Linked DNA regions of Homo sapiens. The protein of the gene in region 2 interacts with the protein of the main gene of each other region in a pairwise test. Each region holds a gene or a part of one and is shown on either strand. Other genes may lie near its edges.

Region 1 (7,116 bases), on a different chromosome or scaffold from region 2:
TCCCTGAGGGCAGGCAGCACGGCTGGGGCGCGGGGCGCGGGGCGCTGGGCGCGGGTGGCTGCCCCTAGGGCCTCGCGTTCTCAGGCTCCTCGCGTTCCTCCTTGGCTGTCCCCGGGGAAGGCTCTTGCGCCGGGTGCCTGTTGCCTGTGCCCGACTGCTCCGTGCCCGGGGCCTGGGGCTCCCCATCGTGGGCGCTGTCCAGGTCGGGGCCGGGTGGCCGGGGACGCTGCGGCACCAAGGGAGGTGGCGCAGGCCTGCGGGCGCCCGGCTGGTCTGGGGCATGCGGCATGGGTGGCCCGGAGGACTTGGCCTGGCGGGTGGGCAGGGGCGGCCAGCGGCGGAGGCTGCACGAGCCCCCCAGGTGCGGCCGCGGGTCGGCCTCACCGTTGTGCAGGAGCACGAAGCGGCGCTGGGACAGCAGAGGCAACATCTTCTGGCCGCGCAGGCTCTTCCGGAAGGTCTCGAGCACCAGGTCTGGTGCGGGTGGGGGAGAGAGGGTGAGTGGGGGGCAGAGGCTGGGGCTGGAGGGGGTGGGGAGGGTGTGAGGGGTGGGACCCAGGTGAGCTGAGGTGTGGGGAAGGTTGGGGCAGGGGGCGGCGCTGCCACACAGGCCCTCGGGAGGTGGAAGAGCCCCATCTGTGGGGGTCTGAACTTGGGAAGAGGGCAGGTAGGCATTCAAGACTGGGCAGGTTGTGGGGGTGTGGGGTGGGGGCTTGGAGGCTCACCCAGGGTCTCGATGACCACACCTGGGATGACCTCCTTCAGGACCTCGCAGTTGGTGTGCAGGGCTGGGTTAGAATTCATCTCCAGCAGCCATACCTGCCCCAGACGCCAGTCAGTCCCTCCTCACCCCGAGCCCACTGGGCCAGCAGGAGGCAGAGGCCCTGGTCCTCATTCAGACAGATGGCTCTGGGAGATTGCTTCCTTCCTATAGCCTTGCTCCCCTGTTTGTCCACTGAAGCTCTGAGGGTCTGAAGCTCTGGCCTGAGGGGGCTGCTCTGAGGAGGGGGTGCAGTTCCATCCTAGCTGCACAGGGGGTGAGCCTCATGGATACACCCATCCCCAGGGCTGCATGCAGGCAGGGTGGGGGCTGACTGCAGATTCTGCCTGGGGCCTGCCAGTGTGGTCAGGGTGTACAGATGGCCCCTGCCTCCTTGCATCTGTCTACTGTGCCCCCCGCCGCCCAGGACAGCACCTTGAAGTTGTCATCAATCAGGAAGTCACAGCCAATGAGGTCAAAGTAACCCAGCTTGCAGTCCAGCTTGGGCTTGGCGGCCAGAAAGCAGTGGGCCATGATCTGCTGCATCCGCTTCTGCAGGGAGGCAGGGAGGCATCCTGGCTGCGGCCCGTAGGCCCTGATCACACCCCAGGTCTGAACAGCCACAGCCACATCCCTCACCTGCACTCCCATCTGAACCCGCACCTGTACAGCCACACCTGCCCACACGTTCGTGCACTCAGCCTCACAGGTTCACAGCCAGAAACTCACTCAACAAACTCGTGCAGCTCCTGTCCTGTGTCAGGCACTGGAGATACGAGAGTGAGGAAAACTCACAGGAAATCTCTGCCCTTGAGCAGAAGAGACGGATAGCAAATGGGATACGTAAAATCTCGAATCTTGGTAAGAACTGTGAATTATGTTGTATTTTAACGTGCTCTGGTTTCATCCTCTGCTCCCCAGCTCAATGGTTGCCTCAAAAAACCAACAGCATGCATCCCCAGAACTGGAGATAGCAAAATAGACCTCATTTATAAAAAAAAATTGTCATTATTTGTTTTCTTATGTCTAGTAGTTCCTTGGAAGATCCCATTTGAAAGGACTAACAGAAAGTGTGAGGGCCAGGCACGTGGCTCACACCTGTAGTCCCAGCAGTTTGGGAGGCTGAGGCAGGAGGATTGCTTGAGCTCAGGAGTTTGAGACCAGCCTGGCCAACATGGTGAGACCCCATCTCTACTAGAAATACACAAGTTGGTCGGGCGCGTGGCTCACACCTGTAGTCCCAGCACTTTGGGAGGCTGAGGCAGGAGGATCGCTTGAGCTCAGGAGTCTGAGATCAGCCTGGGCAATATAGGGAGACCTTGTCTCTACCAAAAAATTAGCAAAATTAGCTAAGCGTGGTGGTGTATGCCTGTAGTCCCACCTACTTGGGAGGCTGAGGTGGGAGGACTGCTTGAGCCCAAGAGGCAGAGGCTGTGGTAAGCTGAGATTGTGCCACTGCACTCTAGCCTGGGTGACACAGTGAGACTGTCTAAAAAAAAGAAGTATGGGCCGGGCACAGTGGCTCACGTCTGTAATCCCAGCACTTTGGGAAGCTGAGGTGGGTGGATCACCTGAGGTCAGGAGTTCGAGACAAGCCTTGCCAACATGGTGAAACCCTGCCTCTACTAAAACTAAAAAAAAAAAAAAAAAAGTATGACGATGATGTCTTATCAAATAATAGAGAATACTGGTGAAGAGAGAAAAATTATAAAAGAGAATCAAATAGAAATTCTGAAGTTGAAAAGTAGAACAAAAGTAGAACAAATAAAACATGCACTAGAAGTGCTCAACAGCAGATTTGAATTGTTTGCAGATAGGCCAATTGAGATTATTTAGTCTGAGGAACAGAAAGAAAAAGGAGGCCGGGTGCAGTGGCTTCACACCTGTAATCCCAGCACTTTGGGAGGCCAAGGCAGGGGGATCGCTTGAGGTCAGGAGTTTGAGACCAGCCTGGCCAACATTGTGAAACCTCGTCTCTACTAAATATACAAAAATTAGCCAGATGTGATGGTGCGTGCCTGTAGTCCCAGCTACTTGGGAGGCTGGTAGGCCGGAGGATTGCTTGAGCCCAGAAGGAGGAGGCTGCAGTGAGCTGAGATTGCACCACTGCACTCCATCTTGGGTGACAGAAACCCTGTCTCAAAACAAAAAATGAAAGAGAGAGAGAGAGGGAAGAAAAATAAAGCCTCAGAGACTTGTGGGTGGGACACTGTCAAATGGACCAACATATGCATAATGGGAGTCCCAGAAGGAGAGAAGAGAAAGGAGCAGAAACAATATTTGAAAAAATAATGGCAGAAAACTTCCCAGTTTAATGAAAAACAACCTACACATTCAAGAAGCTCAATGAACTCAAAGTAGGATAAACTCAGAGATCCACCACCTCATCAGCAAACTTCCAAAAGACAGAGAACGTCGAAATCAGCAGGAGAGAAGCCGCTCGTTATGTATGAGGCATCCACAGAAAGATGAACAGCCAGTTTCTCATTAGAGGTCGTGAGGTGGGCAGGCAGTGGGATGGCACAAATTCCCAAAAGTAAAAATACTGTTGACCAAAAATTCTACATCTAGCAAAAGCTGCTTCAAAAATGAAGGGGAGATTAAGACATTCCCAGATAAACAAAGGTAGACCCGCCCTACCGTCCTTCAGGCTGAAATGAAAAGACACTAGACAGTAACTGGAACTCACAGGAGGAAATAAAGAGCCCCAGAAAAGGTCATTGTGTAATTAAATATAAGAGACAGCATACATGTATTTTTTTGTATGTGATTGTTTTGTCCTAAAAGACAACTGTATACAACAATAATTATGAATCCATGTTGATGGACACAAATATACTGAGCTGTAATTTGTGACAACAGCATGAGAGGGGTGGGGCTGTGTAGGAGGAGTGTTTTTGTATACTTTTAGGAGCAGTGTGTTTTTGTATGCTTTTGAAATTAACTTGGTATTAATAAAAAACTGAATTGTTTATTTTAAAACATTTTTTATTTTAGAAACAGGGTCTTGTTCTGTCACCTAGGCTGGGGTAATGTGGTTTGATTGTGGCTCACTGCAGCCTTGACCTCCTGGGCTCAAGTGATCCTCCCATCTCAGCCCCCTAAATAGCTAGGAGGACTACAGGTGCACACTCCCATGCTGAGCTAATTTTGTTTTTTAGAGATGGGGTCTCACTATGTTGCCCAGGCTGCTTTCAAATGCCTGGCCTCATATGATCTTCTTGCCTCAGCCTCCCAAAGCACTGGGATTACAGGCATAAGCCACCACACTCACCCTAATTGTAGTAAATTAAGATACAATATTAATGGTAATCCTCAGGACAACCACTAAAATAACTCAAAAACATATAGTAAAATAAATGACAAGGTAATTAAAATGCTACACTAAGCCAGGCGTGGTGGCTCACGCCTGTAATCCCAGCACCCTGGGAAGCTGAGGCGGGTAGATCACCTGAGGTCAGCAGTTTGAGATCAGCCTGGCCAACATAGTGAAACCCCGTCTCTACTAAAAATACAAAAAATTAGCCGGGTGTGGTGGCATGCGCCTGTAATCCCAGCTACTAGGGAGGCTGAGGCAGGAGAATCGCTTGAATCCGGGAGGCGGGGGCTGCAGTGAGCCGAGATCACGCCACTGCACTCCAGCCTGGGCAACAAGAGCGAAACTCCGTTTCAAAAAAAAAAAGCTACACTAGAAAATATCTCTCTAAAACAATAGGAGGCAGTAATGGAGAAACTGAGGAACAAAAAAAGACAGACATAGAAAACAAATAACAAAATAGCATATGTAAATCCTACCTTATCAGTAATTATTATTATTATTATTTTTTGAGACGGAGTCTCGCTCTGTCACCCAGGCTGGAGTGCAATGGCGCAATCTTGGCTCACTGCAAGCTCCGCCTCCTGGGTTCACGCCATTCTCCTGCCTCAGCCTCCCGAGCAGCTGGGACTACAGTTGCTCACCACCACGCCTGGCTAATGTTTTGTATTTTTAGTAGAGACGGGGTTTCACCGTGTTAGCCAGGATGGTCTCAATCCCTGACCTTGTGATCCACCTGCCTTGGCCTCCCAAAGGGCTGGCATTACAGGCGTGAGCCACCGTGCCCGGCCCTTTATCAGTAATTATATTAAATGTAAGTGAATTAAACTTTCCAATTAATAGACATTGACGGAGTTTCTTAAAAAAACATGATATACCATCTACAAAAGATACTTTAGTTTCAGAGACAAAAATAGGTGGAAAGTAAAGGGATGGAAAAAGATGTACCACACACGGTAACCAAAGTAGAACTGGAGTGTCTACACTCATACCAACTGGAGTGTCTACACTCATACCAACTGGAGTGTCTACACTCATACCAACTGGAGTGTCTACACTGATATGAACAACTGGAGTGTCTACACTCATACCAACTGGAGTGTCTACACTGATATCAACTGGAGTGTCTACACTCATACCAACTGGAGTGTTTACACTGATACGAACTGGAGTGTCTACACTCATACCAACTGGAGTGTCTACACTCATACCAACTGGAGTGTCTACACTGATATCAATTGGAGTGTCTACACTGATATCAACTGGATTGTCTACACTCATACCAACTGGAGTGTCTACACTCATACCAACTGGAGTGTCTACACTGATATCAACTGGAGTGTCTACACTGATACGAACTGGAGTGTCTACACTCATACCAACTGGAGTGTCTACACTCATACCAACTGGAGTGTCTACATTCATATCAACTGGAGTGTCTACACTTATACCAACTGGAGTGTCTACACTCATATCACAGAAAATAGACTTTACACAAAAATTATTACTGCAGATTAAAGGAAAATTTTTATAACGATAAACCAAGAAGATCTAATAATCATAAACATACACACACCCAACAACAGAGCCTCGAAATATACAAAAAACTGACAGATCTGAAGGGAGAAGTAGACAACTGAATATCCCGCTTTCAATACAGAGACAGAAGATTAACGAGTAAATAGAAGACTCGAACAACATTATAAACCAAACAGACCTAACAGACATGTTGGGAGCAGGCCCCCCCCCAAAATCTGGCCATAAACTGGCCCCAAGACTGGCCATAAACAAATCTCTGCAGCACTGTGACATGTTCACAATGGCCCTAACGCCCACGCTGGGAGGTTGTGGGTTGACGGGAATGAGGGCAAGGAACACCTGGCCCGCCCAGGGCGGAAAACCGCTGAAAGGCGTTCTTAAGCCACAAACAATAGCAGGAGCGATCTGTGTCTTAAGGGCGTGTTCCTGATGCAGTTAACTAGCCCAACCTATTCCTTTAATTTGGCCCATCCCTTCGTTTCCCGTAAGGGATACTTTTAGTTAACTGAATATCTATAGAAACAATGCTATGACTGGTTTGCTGTTACTAAATATGTGGGTAAATCTCTGTTCAGGGCTGTCAGCTCTGAAGGTTGTGAGGCCCCTGATTTCCCACTTCACACCTCTGTATTTCTCTGTGTGTGTCTTTAATTCCTCTAGCGCCGCCGGGTTAGGGTCTCCCCGACCGAGCTGGTCTCGGCACAGACATCTACAGAACACTACACCCAAAAACAGGATACACCTCCTTCTCCAGTGCACATGGATATTCTCCAGGATAGACCATATGCTGGGACATAAACAAGTTTCAAGTGTTTTTTGTTTTTGTTTTTTAATGATCCACTTAATGAATAGTAAGTTTGTTGTTTTTTTAAAGATGGGGTTTTGCTGTGTTGCCCAGGCTGGACTCAAACTCCTGGGCTTAAGCAATGTTTCCATCTCAGCCTCCTGAGTAGCTGGAATTACAGGTATGTGCCAACACACCAGCTCCAATAATTTTTCAATAATTTTTAAAGGGTTGAAATTATAAAGTATGTTCTCTGACACAATGGAATGAAATTAGAAGTCAATAACAGAAGGAAAATTGGAAAAATCACAAATATGTGGAAATTAAATAACAGGCCCTTAAGCAACCAATGGGTCAAAGAAAAGCTTACAAAGGAAATTTAAAATACTTTGCAGCTGAGCATCATGGCTCACGCCTATAATCCCAGCACTTTGGCAGGCGGATCACCTGAGGTCAGGAGTTCAAGACCAGCCTGGCCAACATGGTGAAACCCCCATCTCTACTAATAATACAAACAAAATTAGCCAGGCGTGGTGGCAGGTGCCTGTAATCCCAGCTACTCGGGAGGCTGAGGCAGGAGAATCGCTTGAACCCGGGAGGCAGAGGCTGCAGTGAGCTGAGATTGCGCCATTACACTCCAGCCTAGGTGACAAGAGCGAAACTCCATCTCAAATAAAATAAAAAATAAAAATAAAAATACTTTGAGACAAATGAAAA
Region 2 (7,116 bases):
AGTCATGGGTCCAAGGAGAATTACAGGAAACTTGATAAGCACTTTTCAGAAAACATATTACCAAAATGTTCAGAGACAGACTATGTACATATGTAACTGAAAATAACCGAGTATACAAATCAAGTATAACAAAAACAGAAAAAACATTTTGTTAAGGTAGTAAAATTAAACTCACCCTGTACAACCCATAATTTCTGGTCCATCAAAAGAAAAGGGATCAGAATCATCTGGTTCTGACCTCATCCTGTATGTCTTTGTCAGCACTTCATTTGTAAAATATTCATTGGGTTCAAAGTGAAATTCTAAGACAAAACTCTGGGGAGAGGAAGCATAAAAATCAGTTAAATACCTACCTCACATATTTCAGTACTTTAGTAAACACAGCTTCATCTGTTTTTATAAATATTCTAAATGATAATTTTTTTTTCTACTCTGAAATACAATCTTCTTTTTGAGACTGAGTCTTGCATTGTTGCCCAGGCCGGAGTGCAGGGGCACAATTTCAGCTCACTGCAACCTTTGCCTCCCAGATTCAAGTGATTCTGGTGCGCCAGCCTGCCAATTATCTGGGATTATAGGTGTGTGCCACCACACCCAGTTAATTTTTGTATTTTTAGTACAGACAGTGTTTCACCACGTTGGACAGGCTGGTATTGACCTCCGGACCTCAAGTGATCCACCCACCTCGGCCTCCCAAAGTGCTGGGATTACAGGTGTGAGCCACTGCACCCAGCCATGAAATATTTAAGAATGGGACAGACTGTCAGATGAGCCCCAAATTATGTTAAAATCAAAAAAATTACGTTAAAATAATAATGAGGTACAAATTGAACTGAATAGAACTTAGTTTCAATTTACATCTATTAAATAATTAACATGTTTACACAACAGGCTAGGCATTCCTGAATAAAGTGACCATGTTGCCTCCCTTACTCCCCAACTACTGGAGGAATCAGGCTTTTAAATAGTAGACTAAACGTGAACTTGACACAGAAAAAGCCCAACCTTAAGCATCTACAGCCTATATTCTTAGCAGTTTTGCCCTTAGTTGACATTAATTCTGGTGGTTTGGTGGACAGCTTGTTGGCTGATCTTTCCTCATTAGGGAGTGGGCATCCTCTAACATCAGTTTTGTGTAATTCCCAAGCTCATGCCTTTTAATGCAGAAAAAGTACTTATTCATGTTCCCTTGGCATTATTTTTATCCACTTATCCAGGAACAAGGATTGTCTGTGTTTCAAACACAATTTATGATCAGAAGGAGGAAAAGGAATAAATACTGCCTCACAATTAGCAGCATCCAAATATTTATTCACTATAACAAAGAGCACCAACCTTACCCTTGAATGTTATCTTTTTAAAAGCTTCTATTTATCTACCTGTAAGCATGTTACAAAATTATAAATATTTCAAAGTTCTTTTACCATAGGCTGGCCAGCATCTGAGAACTTCACTTTAATATCTTTCAAGTGCTTCAGAATAGGTTCATCGTGTTCCTTCAAATTAAAAAAATAATAAAAATGAATAACATGGCATTCGAGGACTGTGTTCTGTTACTACACAAACACCAGCTGACTGAGACATAATATATTTCAAAGTAGTTTTGTATAGCAATTATGAACCTTAAGACTTACTCTCCAGGTTATGGCTTATACTAAAGCTAATTTATACTGTAGTTCTACTGCCACTGGTAGAGAAAAAGTGTCCAAATAGACAACTGAATTATTATATAGGTTGAAAAATCCAAAATCAAGTCTAAATAAGGCATATCTACTTTTAAAATGTTTCCTGATTGTAATTGCTGCCTTTTCCAGCTGCTTGTCCCCTTCCTCCTGGTCGTTCCTTTTCCACTTTGCTAAAGTAGAATTGTAATAAGCAGTAATTGTGTGAAGATCATTTCTTTTTCTCCATGTAACTTCCAACAATGACAAGACAGGGCAACATGTACTACTACAATGTAGACGGTAGGGGCTCACTCAAGAAATGCTTGAGGCAGTTTCCCAAAGGTGACAACAGTTATGGTTTGCCAGAGAATGTAACCATTGTGAATGAGTTTAACATCTTTATGGTATTCTTTTAAAATGCAAATTTCTCCTGGAAGAGTTAAGGGAATTGCATAATTGCAGCTATAAGATTAACTTTCCCATCATACTTCCATACTAAGTATGTAAAGACAAAAGGCACAGGGTTATAAGAAAACACCAGTCGATAATGAGCCATTATCAATGGGACCATTTCATTATCTCATTTTTTAAAATAAACTAATTTATTTGATTACATTAATCAAAGCTGTAATTTCTCTTCTACAGATATTAGCTATTTCAAAAGTAAGCAATCATTCTAGAAAGATCAACACTGAAGAGAACAGTGATCACAGCCATTTAAACTTCAAAGGTTTACCCTTCAAAGTAAACTGGTACATTTATGAATAAAATTACCTGAACCATATCACTGAGCAAGTCAACATTCTTAAAAACAGTTAACCAAAATTCAGGAATTCCTTTGGGGTCTTCTTTTTCTTCATCTTTTTTCTCATCTTCAATCTTGGCCTTTTCTTTCAATTCCTCCTTGATTAAGTGACAGCAAACATTATTTAATACATAGATTAGACCTCATGATAAAGTAGCAAAGGTATAAAAACCAAAAAGCACAGTCACCAGATATTACCTTCAAAGTTCTAGTCTATCTGTGTAAACACCGCCGTTGCCCATAACAAACCTTAATCCCATCAAAATTACTGCTACCACACCCCTCCAAAGAGAACCACTAAGGTGACCAAGATGTGTAGGAAAAACCATTTTAGTAAAAAAAAAATGTAAAAACTAATTAAAAATGAAGACTTAAGCATAATAAACAAGAAAAGCAACAGAAATACTAATTTGGTCCATTGCCTCACCCCATGGTGTTCTTAATCAAAACATTATATTCTCTTTACCAAACAACATAAAATAGCAATGCTAGAGAGGTGGAACACTTAACACAGCACTGAATGTGTGTCACAGCTCTGCCATTATTCATTGTGGGCAAGTCACTTAGAAGCCTCCATGTCTTCACTTGAAAATGGCAACAATCCTCAGCCTACCATGAAGTTAAAAAAAAAAAAAGAATATAATGAATCTACAAACTAAAAACTGTAAGCCAGGCGCAGTGGCTCACGCTTGTAATCCCAGCACTTTGGGAAGTGAGGTGGGTGGATCATTTAAGGTCAGGAGTTGGAGACCAGCCTGGCCAACATGGCGAAACCCCATCTTTACTAAAAGTACAAAAAATTAGTCAGGCATGGTGGCGCACGCCTGTTATCCAGTTACTGGGAGAAGGAGGCAGAAGAATTGCTTGAACCCAGGAGGTGGAGGTTGCAATAAGCCGAGACTGCACTCCAGCCTGGGCAACAGAGACTCAAAAAAACTATAAAAATAGGCTGGGCACAGTGGCTCAGTGGTTCAAGCCCATAATCCCAACAGTTTGGGAGGCTGAGGTGCGAAGATTGCTTGAAGCCAGGAGTCTAAGACCAGCCTAGGCAAGAAGACTCTGCCTCTACAAAAAAAAGTAGATTAAGCTGGGCATAGTAGCTTCAGATAGTCCTAGCAACTTGGGAGGCTGAGGTGGGAGAATAGCTTGGGCCCAGGAATGAGCTGCAGTGAGCCAAGATCATGCCAGTGTACTCCAGCCTGGGCAACACAGCAAGTCCCTGTCTCTTAAACAAAAAAACTATAAAATGTAAGGAAATAATGACTTTTTGAGTACAGATGGTGGTGCCAGGTTGAATAACAGTTCATCTGCATTATCATTCTTACAAAAAGGAAAAATATTTCCTAGGTATAAAAATACAACTGATGCTCTAGGGAGGCCCTGGCCGGGGAAACGAGTTGCATTTGTCGGCTCAGCTGGCAACAGTGGCGGGAGCAGAGCTGGCGGGGCCTGTGCAACTGCCTGGGTTTGTGAAATGGCTGCTGACGTTTCCGATTCCAATAGGGCTGACTGCAAAGGAGACCCAAGGAACAGAGCCAAGTTAGATGCTGATTACCTACTTTGAGTCCTTTATTGTGGAGTCTGTTCATTACCAATAGAGTACTGTGAATATATGCCTGATGTTGCTAAATGTAGACAATGATTAGAGAAGAATTTTCCAAATGAATATGCAAAACTTACTGTGGAAAATTCACCCAAACAAGAAGCTGGAATCTGTCAAGGTCAAGGAACAGCAGGGGAAGAAGAGGAGAAGAAAAAACAGAAGAGAGGTGGAAGGGGTCAAATAAAACAAAAAAACAAAGACGGTACCACAAAAGGTTACTATAGCCAAAATTCCCAGAGCAAAGAAATATGTGACAAGGGTTGTGGCCTTGTAACTTTTGAAATTGATCTTAAATCACACAAAGATTTTTTGCTCAAAAATTCTCCTGTGGTGCCTCAGTAACAGAGGAGGATGAAATTATCATTCAAGGAGACTTTACAGATGACATAATTGAGGTCATTCAGGAAAAACAGACAGAAGTAGATGATGACAGCATCGAAGATCTTGGAGAAGAAGTGAATTTGAAAATTTGTCTGTAGTTAATGGCCTGAACTGACAGTAGATATGGCCAAAGGGAGAGAGGCCTACATATATATATATATATATATATATATATATGTATTCTACAGTAAAACTGTAGACTGCCTTCGTTCTTGGCATTTTCCCTGTTCTGTACAAGGCTGCTTATTTTTTTATTGCCAAAGTCAAATAAACAGGAGAGACTGTCATGCTCATACATGAACAGAATTTAGTCAAATAAAAAATTTTGGTTATTTGGTACTTTTTTTTTTTTTTTTTGAGACGGAGTCTCACACTGTCGCCTGGGCTGGAGCGCAGTGGTGCGATCTCGGCTCACTGCAACCTCGACTTCCCGAGTTCAAGTGATTCTCCTGCCTGAGCCTCCCGAGTAGGTGGGATTAGAGGCACCCGCCTCCACACCCAGCTAATATTTTGTATTTTTAGTAGAGATGGGATTTCACCATGTTGGCCAGGCTGGTCTCGAACTCCTGACCTAGTGATTGGCCCACCTAGGCCTCCCAAAGTGCTGGGATTACAGGCATGAGCCACTGCGCCTGGCCTTTCTCTTTCTCTCTTTTTATTTTTTGAAAAACCCGGTAGACTTTGCGGTGACCATTTTTGTTGATTATTTTACTGATCTAAAGCTGAGTGATTTTTTAAAAGAATTTGAATTTGGCTTCCTCACCAATAATATGTCTCCTTGCTTCTCTGATGTGATAGTTTTGAGATGGGTGAGAATCTAATATATCTGTGGTTGAATTTGCTTTGCTGTTATCAAGTCCACCCTATGGGCACAATAACATACTGTTGGTAGGAGTTGTTGGAGCTATTCTGGAGATTATTTGGTAAAGTATACTAAAAGCCTTAAAACCACGTATGTGCACTGTTTGAACCAGTAAGCCACTTCTTTGAAATTAGAAGACATTAGAAGAAACAATAAGCCTTGCAATAAAACTTATGGATGAAAGTATTCATCACAATATGATTTATAATAAAAAATTGCAAATGTTATAAGTGAACAATTGGAAAATGGTTAAGGAAGTGATGGTGCACTGTGTGGTATGTTTATGTTTAAAGATGTGGTATGCATATGTTTAAAGAATCATATTTTCTAAGATTATTTGGAAACATGTTTGGTAATGTCAAGTGGGGGCACCCCAGATACATTTTAGACATTTAATCATCATCGTTCTGAGAGGAAGGCCATTCAGAGATGCTAGAGGTTCTTATTCTGGATATAAATTACATGAGTAAAATTCTACTAACCAATTAAAAATAATGTACAACCATGTTCAATATACAGTCCTGGAAATAGCAATTATGTCTTTTCACAAGAGAAAATGACAGTTTTAATGCTCCATCAGATGAATTCGAACTTTAAGTCAGGTGCTGCAAATTGGAAATAAGACTTGTGGTGTTTTAAACTGCTGTGGACACTTAAGAAACTTAGAACCCATGAAACCGCTGCTTATTGCCATGCAAATTACAATCTTGAATGACTGTTTTTTAAAAATAAAGTAATAGAAAAACGTGTAATAAAGACGTAAAATTAAAAAATGAAAAAATACAACTGGTTATATAATATTGTACTCCATCATTAAATGCTAACATTTCTGACAAGTCCTAAGATTTTATCATCTTAAAAACATACCAAAATAAAGTTGGTACTAACCGAAATCTCATCTTCTTCATCTGGTTTCCATTCACATTCTTCTTCCGTAGGTTCATAAATTGCATTAATAATTTCAAATCGCTAAAATGATTTAAAAAAAAAAGGCTGTATAAAAACACTGGCATCCAAGCTAAAACCAGTGGTTTCTCACTAAGAAGTCTTACAAATTTAACAAATGCATACCACAACTTTAACTGCTATTATTGATAGTTCCTCCAAGTGCTGCCTCTAATAACAATTTCAATGAGAGTTCTAAAGATTAACCTCTTCCAAGTCTGCTTATGTTTCTAGAATTCGTCTTCTAGAATGTTAAATTAAACAAAGTAGGAGAAAGCATTACCTTATCAAATAGAGGCTGATAGAGAACAGCATACTTCCTTTCAAGATCGTGAACTTCCTCATAGAATTTGGCTTCTATCTGTGCACATTTAACTTGCAGGTTTTTGAGAGCATTCACTCGTCTTTTAACTACCCTAGGCAGGCTGAAAGGTTAGAAATCAGTTATATAGCATCAGAGTAAAATGGAAGTCACACTTCTTTTGTCATACTGAAACTGAAGCATTGGAGTTAGTGAATGACAGGTTTTTTATCTGAAGCAAAAGGTAGATTCAAAGTAAATAAAAATCAAATAGATATAAATACATTGATCCACTGGCTATATTTCAAAAGTAGAAATGTAACTGGGTAAATTGATAAACAAAATGTAAATCATATTGTCAACCCTAAATCTTTACCCAAGTTAAGTGTTGGACTTGTCATTGCTGAAGTCATGGACAGACCATCTTAATTCTGAGAACAATGATTACTTGGATTTTTCTTTTACATATATCTCACCCATACAAGTTATTAGGAAAAAGGAGGGGAGCATAGACATATCAGGAAAAAGGACAAGATTCCACACACCATTATTTTT
Region 3 (5,444 bases), on a different chromosome or scaffold from region 2:
TTTTCTCTGAAGCCTGCTGGCTGGAGGCTTCATCTGCATAAAACCTTGGTCTCCACAACCCCTTACTGTAACCCAGACATTCCTTTCTATTGATTCCAGGTCTTTAGATAATAACTCTTTCAACCAATTGCCAATCAGAAAATCTTTGATTCTGCCTATGACAACATCCCCAGGTCTTGAGCTGTCCTGCCTCTCCAGACCAAACCACTGTACATCTTACATGTACTGACTGGTATCTTATGTCTCCCTAAAATGTATTAAATGTATAAAACTAAGTTGTAGCCAGACGACCCTGGACACATGTTCTCAGGATCTCCTAAGAGTTGTATCACAGGCCATCAGTCACTCACACTTGGCTCAGAATAAATCTCTTCAAATATTTTTACAGAGGTTGACTCTTTTTGGCAACACTTTCCCGGCTGGCAGTCAGGGTTCTACCTTCTGTCAAATTATGAGTGTTAAGTTCCACATAAGGGATTTCTGATTTCACAAAATAAGCAACAGGACCTTGAGTGGCTTTCAATAATTTCAGTGCAACAGTGCTGGGGACTTGTACCACCTCAGTAGCCAAAAGGAACAGATACAGGAACCCTGTTTGAGAATATCTGCCCTTTAATTTGCATTTAAAATCAGTTTCTTTAAATACTTTAGTTACAAGTTCTGAATAGTGAAGACAGAGTAGTAGATGCTGCAGGCACTCAGTATTGGCTCCCACCCCTTCCCCCCTCCCCCACCCCCAGGCCTCACTTCTTGGCTTAAGATACAAAAGGGCACTCTCTACTGGCCCTGGTGTCAAACGTCAGCAGCCTCAGGCCTGGATGCAGTTGGATACAAAGCCATGAATCCCAGTGGCTCCAAGGAATTCCAATGATTGTGCCCAGATCCACGGGCAACACACCTTAGAAATGACCTCATCCGTTTCACCACTAGGTACTAACACCCTCAGGGTGGTTTCCTACCCCAGTCCACGTCCTCCAGATCTGTGTCCTGCAGAGGAAGAGACAAGGCCCCGCTATAACGCAGGAAGGAACAAAAACTGCCTCCTCAGCCCAGGTGCTTACAGCAACTTAACTGAAAAGCTCAAGGCAATGTGAGTCAGTCTAGAGGAGACCTCCCTTCCCTAGTCTCTACCAGGCTCTGGCCCTTCCTCGGGACCACGCTTGGTCCCACTGCCATGATGTGCTAGAATCTGCTCTAAGAACAAGGTGCTAGAATGAGGCCCAGCAACCAGCAAAGGGGTTGGAAAGGGTTGCTACAGCCCCAGCTGTGTGAGATTGTGCCAAGACGAGTCTTCTTGGTGTCAGCCTATGATGGAGAGCGTGAGGGCAGGCCTGGGCTCTCCTTCTATGATGATTACAATGCATGACCTCAGGGGACCTCTGCCCTCTCCTCCCACTCACACACCCAGATCCCCTGGCCTGTGCTTCCTGGAAGAGGTAGAAGAGGCATCTTGAAGTCAATGACAACGGAGAATGAAGGTGCCATTGAAGAAGCAAAGCAGCACCTCTTTGCCTGTGTTCAATCCCTCCACACAAGTGGAATCAAGGGAGAATGTGCACAGCCAGGACAGAGGCTGCTCTGAGCTTGGGAGGCACAGCATCCTCCTAGAAGTCTCTGCAGAACAAACTTTCAAAAGATAGGAACTTAATCACATGGTCCCCAGGGGTTTCTCTATAGTATACCAGCACTAGGGAAAAGCAAAATCATCTTTGCAGAGAGCTGATGGAAGAAAGGCAGGAATATGAATGAGCATCCATTAAGGCTCTCTCTCTTAAGCCTAAGGAATTAAGATATTCGAGGCTATGAGACAGGTGCAGAGAGGGAGAGCCTGGCAGGAACGCCAAGAAAAGACCTGTGACTGCTGGTTACACAGTGCTCTGCTTCCTTGCTTGAGGCCAACAGCATGTGTCTGCCTGTCACCAGGCTAACCCGGGACCCATGAGGGGACAGGGAGAAGACTGGTTTTCAGTTCCTGCATGATCAACTTGTAGGGTGTGTGGGTTCCTCCTAAAGATCCAGGAGGAGGACTCTGGGATCCTCTACCGCTGCCTTGATTTTGCGGAGGAAAGTCACAGCCTCTCTGCCATCAATCAGCCGGTGATCATAGGTCAGTGCCACGTACATCATGGGCCGCACCTCTACCTACAGAGAGGAAAGGTAAATAGGTTTGTCTCCAGCAAGCCACAGCCAGCCTCGCTGAAGGAGATTTAGCACAGCCCATAAGAAAGTTCCTAATTCCAGAGCCTTTCCTATTGATGTTGCCTCTGCATATTTACAGTATTTCAAAGACCAGGACTTACCCTCAGTGCAAAGCTTCCCCACTCAGAAACAAAGTTTGCCAAGAAAACTGTCTTCTCACAACTGCCTTTTATTTTTTAAAAACATACTCTGCCCTCTAACGCATCTGCTGCCTACAAGGAAAGTTTTCCCTTCAGTTCTGGCTGCCTGTACTTGCTTCTCTCTGGGGTTAGAATTTAAAAAAAAAAAAAAAAATTAAGCCAGGGTCTACAAATTCTGGAATTGTATGTGTAGCTGGGTGTATGGGCATTTTCCAGGAAGATCTACAGACTGTGGTTTCACACAGGAGTCAGTAACCCAAAAGGATTCTAAACACAGGAGTTCCCAGAAAGCTTTTTTGATACCAACGTATCTTCTAAGGGCCAGCTCAAGCCCCTTTTAATACTTAATTCTCTGAACTCCCGGGAAATTTACAAGCTTTATCATACAACTTGGCAGCTCACAGACTGACATGCATAATTGTCATCTGTTTCCCAGGGGCAAGGGACCACGTTTCCAACTATATCCCCCACTCCATAGAAGCAAACAAGCCTCCTCAGCTCAGTGGTTCTCAAACTTGAATATGCATCAGGATCATCTGCACTTCTTCTTTAAGTCTGGGATGGGGTCTAAGAATATGCATTTCTAATAAGGTCCCAGATGATGCTGATCCAGACCACAATTTGATAATCAGTGCCTTAGCTATTAGAAACTAAGAAATGGAACTTAGGCCTGAAATTATAGTTAATGTTTTACAATTAGCATTTAGTTGGATTTCCCTTTCATCGAGACCTAGCCACTAGGACCTTAGAAGTGACGGTTCCTACCTTGCCTCCTATAGCCACTGGCCTGTCAAAGATGCCATGCATCCCCAGGATGGCAGACTGAGGGGGGTTGATAATGGGTGTTCCAAAGAGCGAGCCAAAAACGCCTCCATTGCTAATGGTGAAGGTACCGCCATCCATATCTTCAATGGCAAGTTCATTCTTTCGGGCCTAAAAACAGATTTCATAATTGAAATATCAAGCCAACCCAGTTTCCTTCACCTAAAGTCAGTCCATAATCCCAGCGCTTTGGGAGGCCGAGGCAGGAGGACTGCTTGAGGCCAGGAGTTCAAGGCCAACCTGGGCAACATAGTGAGACCCCCATCTGTATAAAAAACTTAAGAATTAGCCAGGCATGGTGGTGCACACCTGTAGTCCCAGCTACTTGGGAGGCTGAGGCAGGAGAATCGCTTGAGCCCAGGAGTGCAAGGCTGCAGTAAGCTATGACTCTACCACTCTACTCCAGCCTGGGCAACACAGCGAGACCCTGCCTCTAAAAACAAAAAAGCAAAGGAAGTCCAGAAAGCTTGTATCGAGATCGATGGCACAAGCGCTAGCTTCCGTGTGACAGTTGTTCGGCTAAGGTGTCTATGACCAGTGCTCCACCAGAGAAAAGGCACAATTTCATACAGTTGAAGACTTCAAAGATGATCTTTTCTAGCAGGTCTCATCTGATGAGATTTCAGTTACCAGAGCATGGTAAACTCCACCAGATATATAAAATACTTAGCTCTCATGGGCAACTGCTTTTCTCAGGGGCTATGCACTTGACTTTCCATGAGCACTGCTTGCTAGTGAGCCCAGCCTTCTGAAGGCTCTCTTCCCTCGCCTGCTTAGCAGCTTGTATACATCTTTCTACTTTACCTTCTCTCCCAGTTCAGTGATGGTCCGTTCAATATCTGCAAAATTCATAGCTTCCACATTCCTGATGACTGGAACCACCAGACCCTGAAGGGGGTGAAAAGCTGTTTTCAGTTGCAAATTAATAGTACCTTTTATAGTTAACAACTCCCTTGATTCAACCCATGGTATGCCCTCCCTAGAATACCTTCATTACTCAGTGTGATTAACAGAAAGTGTTAAAAGAATGCGGCATGGTTTAAAAGAAAAAAAAGGTTACTTTTACTAACTCCCTTCTAAAAATACAGAATTAAAGAAATGATTTCTCTTGTGTGATCTCCTTCACACAGATAAGGTGAGGGTCTAAGACCAACATTCCCCACCTCCTGCCCCAACATACCCGTGGGGTGGCCACTGCAACACTGATGTCAATATAATCCCTATACACCACCTCTTTGGTTGTGTCGTCAATCACTATGAGAGAGAAAATACATGTTACATACAACTCCCCAGGAAGGCCAAGACTAATGAGGTAATATGTGCATTAACAGAGTAAAAATCTGCAGAGCTTGATACAGTGTGGGCTGACCAACCACCATGAACACCACTGCATTATGCATGGCAGCTGGCATTCCACTTACTCCCATCCCAAGTATAGTATCTCCCAAGTCCCTGACTGAGCCTGGGCATAGGAGCATCCATTTCTTTGGCAGCCCTAAGAAGGGCTCAACACACTGGCTTCCATAGGATAGGTATGCACTAAACTCTCGTTAAGTAGCTCTAGTCAAGCCCTCCTTTAGCAGAGAATGACTAGGGTTAACAAATGTTCCAAAAAAGGGCAAATTAGCAAAGGAAAAGGGATATAGAGATACTACCCATTCTCTGCTTCCAACTCTCAACAAGAGGAAGAGGGGAGATCCAAGAGTAAGCGGGGTGATCTGGCTTTGAAATATGCTACCTCAAGAGATGGCAAACCAGCATCTGAAAATGTACACCTAGCAACTAATGGGAAAATAAAGGCTTGGGAATCATTTCCGCAGAAAGTCCATGTTGTATTGTTAGATAAGACATCCAGAGGAAGCATGTAATGTGAAAAAGAGGCCACGAGAACTTTTGAGAGCCGCCTACATGTGTGGGCAAGCAGAAGGGGGCCACTGAAAAAGATGAGAGCCAGTCAGGGAGGCATGAGAAGAATGGGAAAAAGAAGAGGTATACATTTGGGCAAAACAAAGATGGCCTTCTACCTCCCTAGAGCACCACTCAACAGGAGGGACTAGGGCTTCTACTTCTAGACCTTTAGGGCCCCTGACACTGCTGAGGATGGCAAAAGTAGCACTGACCCCTCTCCAATCTCCCAAGGAACAGAGAAGTGTGTCAACAGGAAAACAAAGTGCTTGTTAGGTCAACACTACAATGACGTAGGTAAGTAAAAAGGAAAGAAAATAAGCACCAGGTCCATGAGAGGCCAAGCCGAAGCTCCCAGTGAGGCCCATCGACCTAAGA

Evidence for each region.
Region 1: the proteins of NAP1L1 (region 2) and TTLL10 interact in binary tests that used the Homo sapiens proteins (3 or more experiments, as listed by UniProt).
Region 3: the proteins of NAP1L1 (region 2) and DLST interact in binary tests that used the Homo sapiens proteins (3 or more experiments, as listed by UniProt).

Annotation. Positions count from the first base shown.
Region 1 is NC_000001.11:1,190,796-1,197,911, reverse strand, and holds part of TTLL10 (inactive polyglycylase TTLL10), read right to left. Parts: intron 3,306-7,116; coding exon of another isoform or gene 3,204-3,305; exon of another isoform or gene 2,877-3,203; intron 1,313-2,876; coding exon 1,196-1,312; intron 820-1,195; coding exon 726-819; intron 475-725; coding exon 65-474; 3' UTR 1-64. UniProt on the Homo sapiens protein: Inactive polyglycylase.
Region 2 is NC_000012.12:76,053,595-76,060,710, forward strand, and holds part of NAP1L1 (nucleosome assembly protein 1-like 1), read right to left. Parts: intron 6,686-7,116; coding exon 6,544-6,685; intron 6,285-6,543; coding exon 6,204-6,284; intron 2,568-6,203; coding exon 2,439-2,567; intron 1,497-2,438; coding exon 1,425-1,496; intron 316-1,424; coding exon 176-315; intron 1-175. UniProt on the Homo sapiens protein: Histone chaperone that plays a role in the nuclear import of H2A-H2B and nucleosome assembly.
Region 3 is NC_000014.9:74,898,894-74,904,337, reverse strand, and holds the end of DLST (dihydrolipoyllysine-residue succinyltransferase component of 2-oxoglutarate dehydrogenase complex, mitochondrial isoform 1 precursor), read right to left. Parts: intron 4,416-5,444; coding exon 4,342-4,415; intron 4,050-4,341; coding exon 3,966-4,049; intron 3,273-3,965; coding exon 3,105-3,272; intron 2,143-3,104; coding exon 2,008-2,142; 3' UTR 595-2,007; downstream 1-594. UniProt on the Homo sapiens protein: Dihydrolipoamide succinyltransferase (E2) component of the 2-oxoglutarate dehydrogenase complex. The 2-oxoglutarate dehydrogenase complex catalyzes the overall conversion of 2-oxoglutarate to succinyl-CoA and CO(2).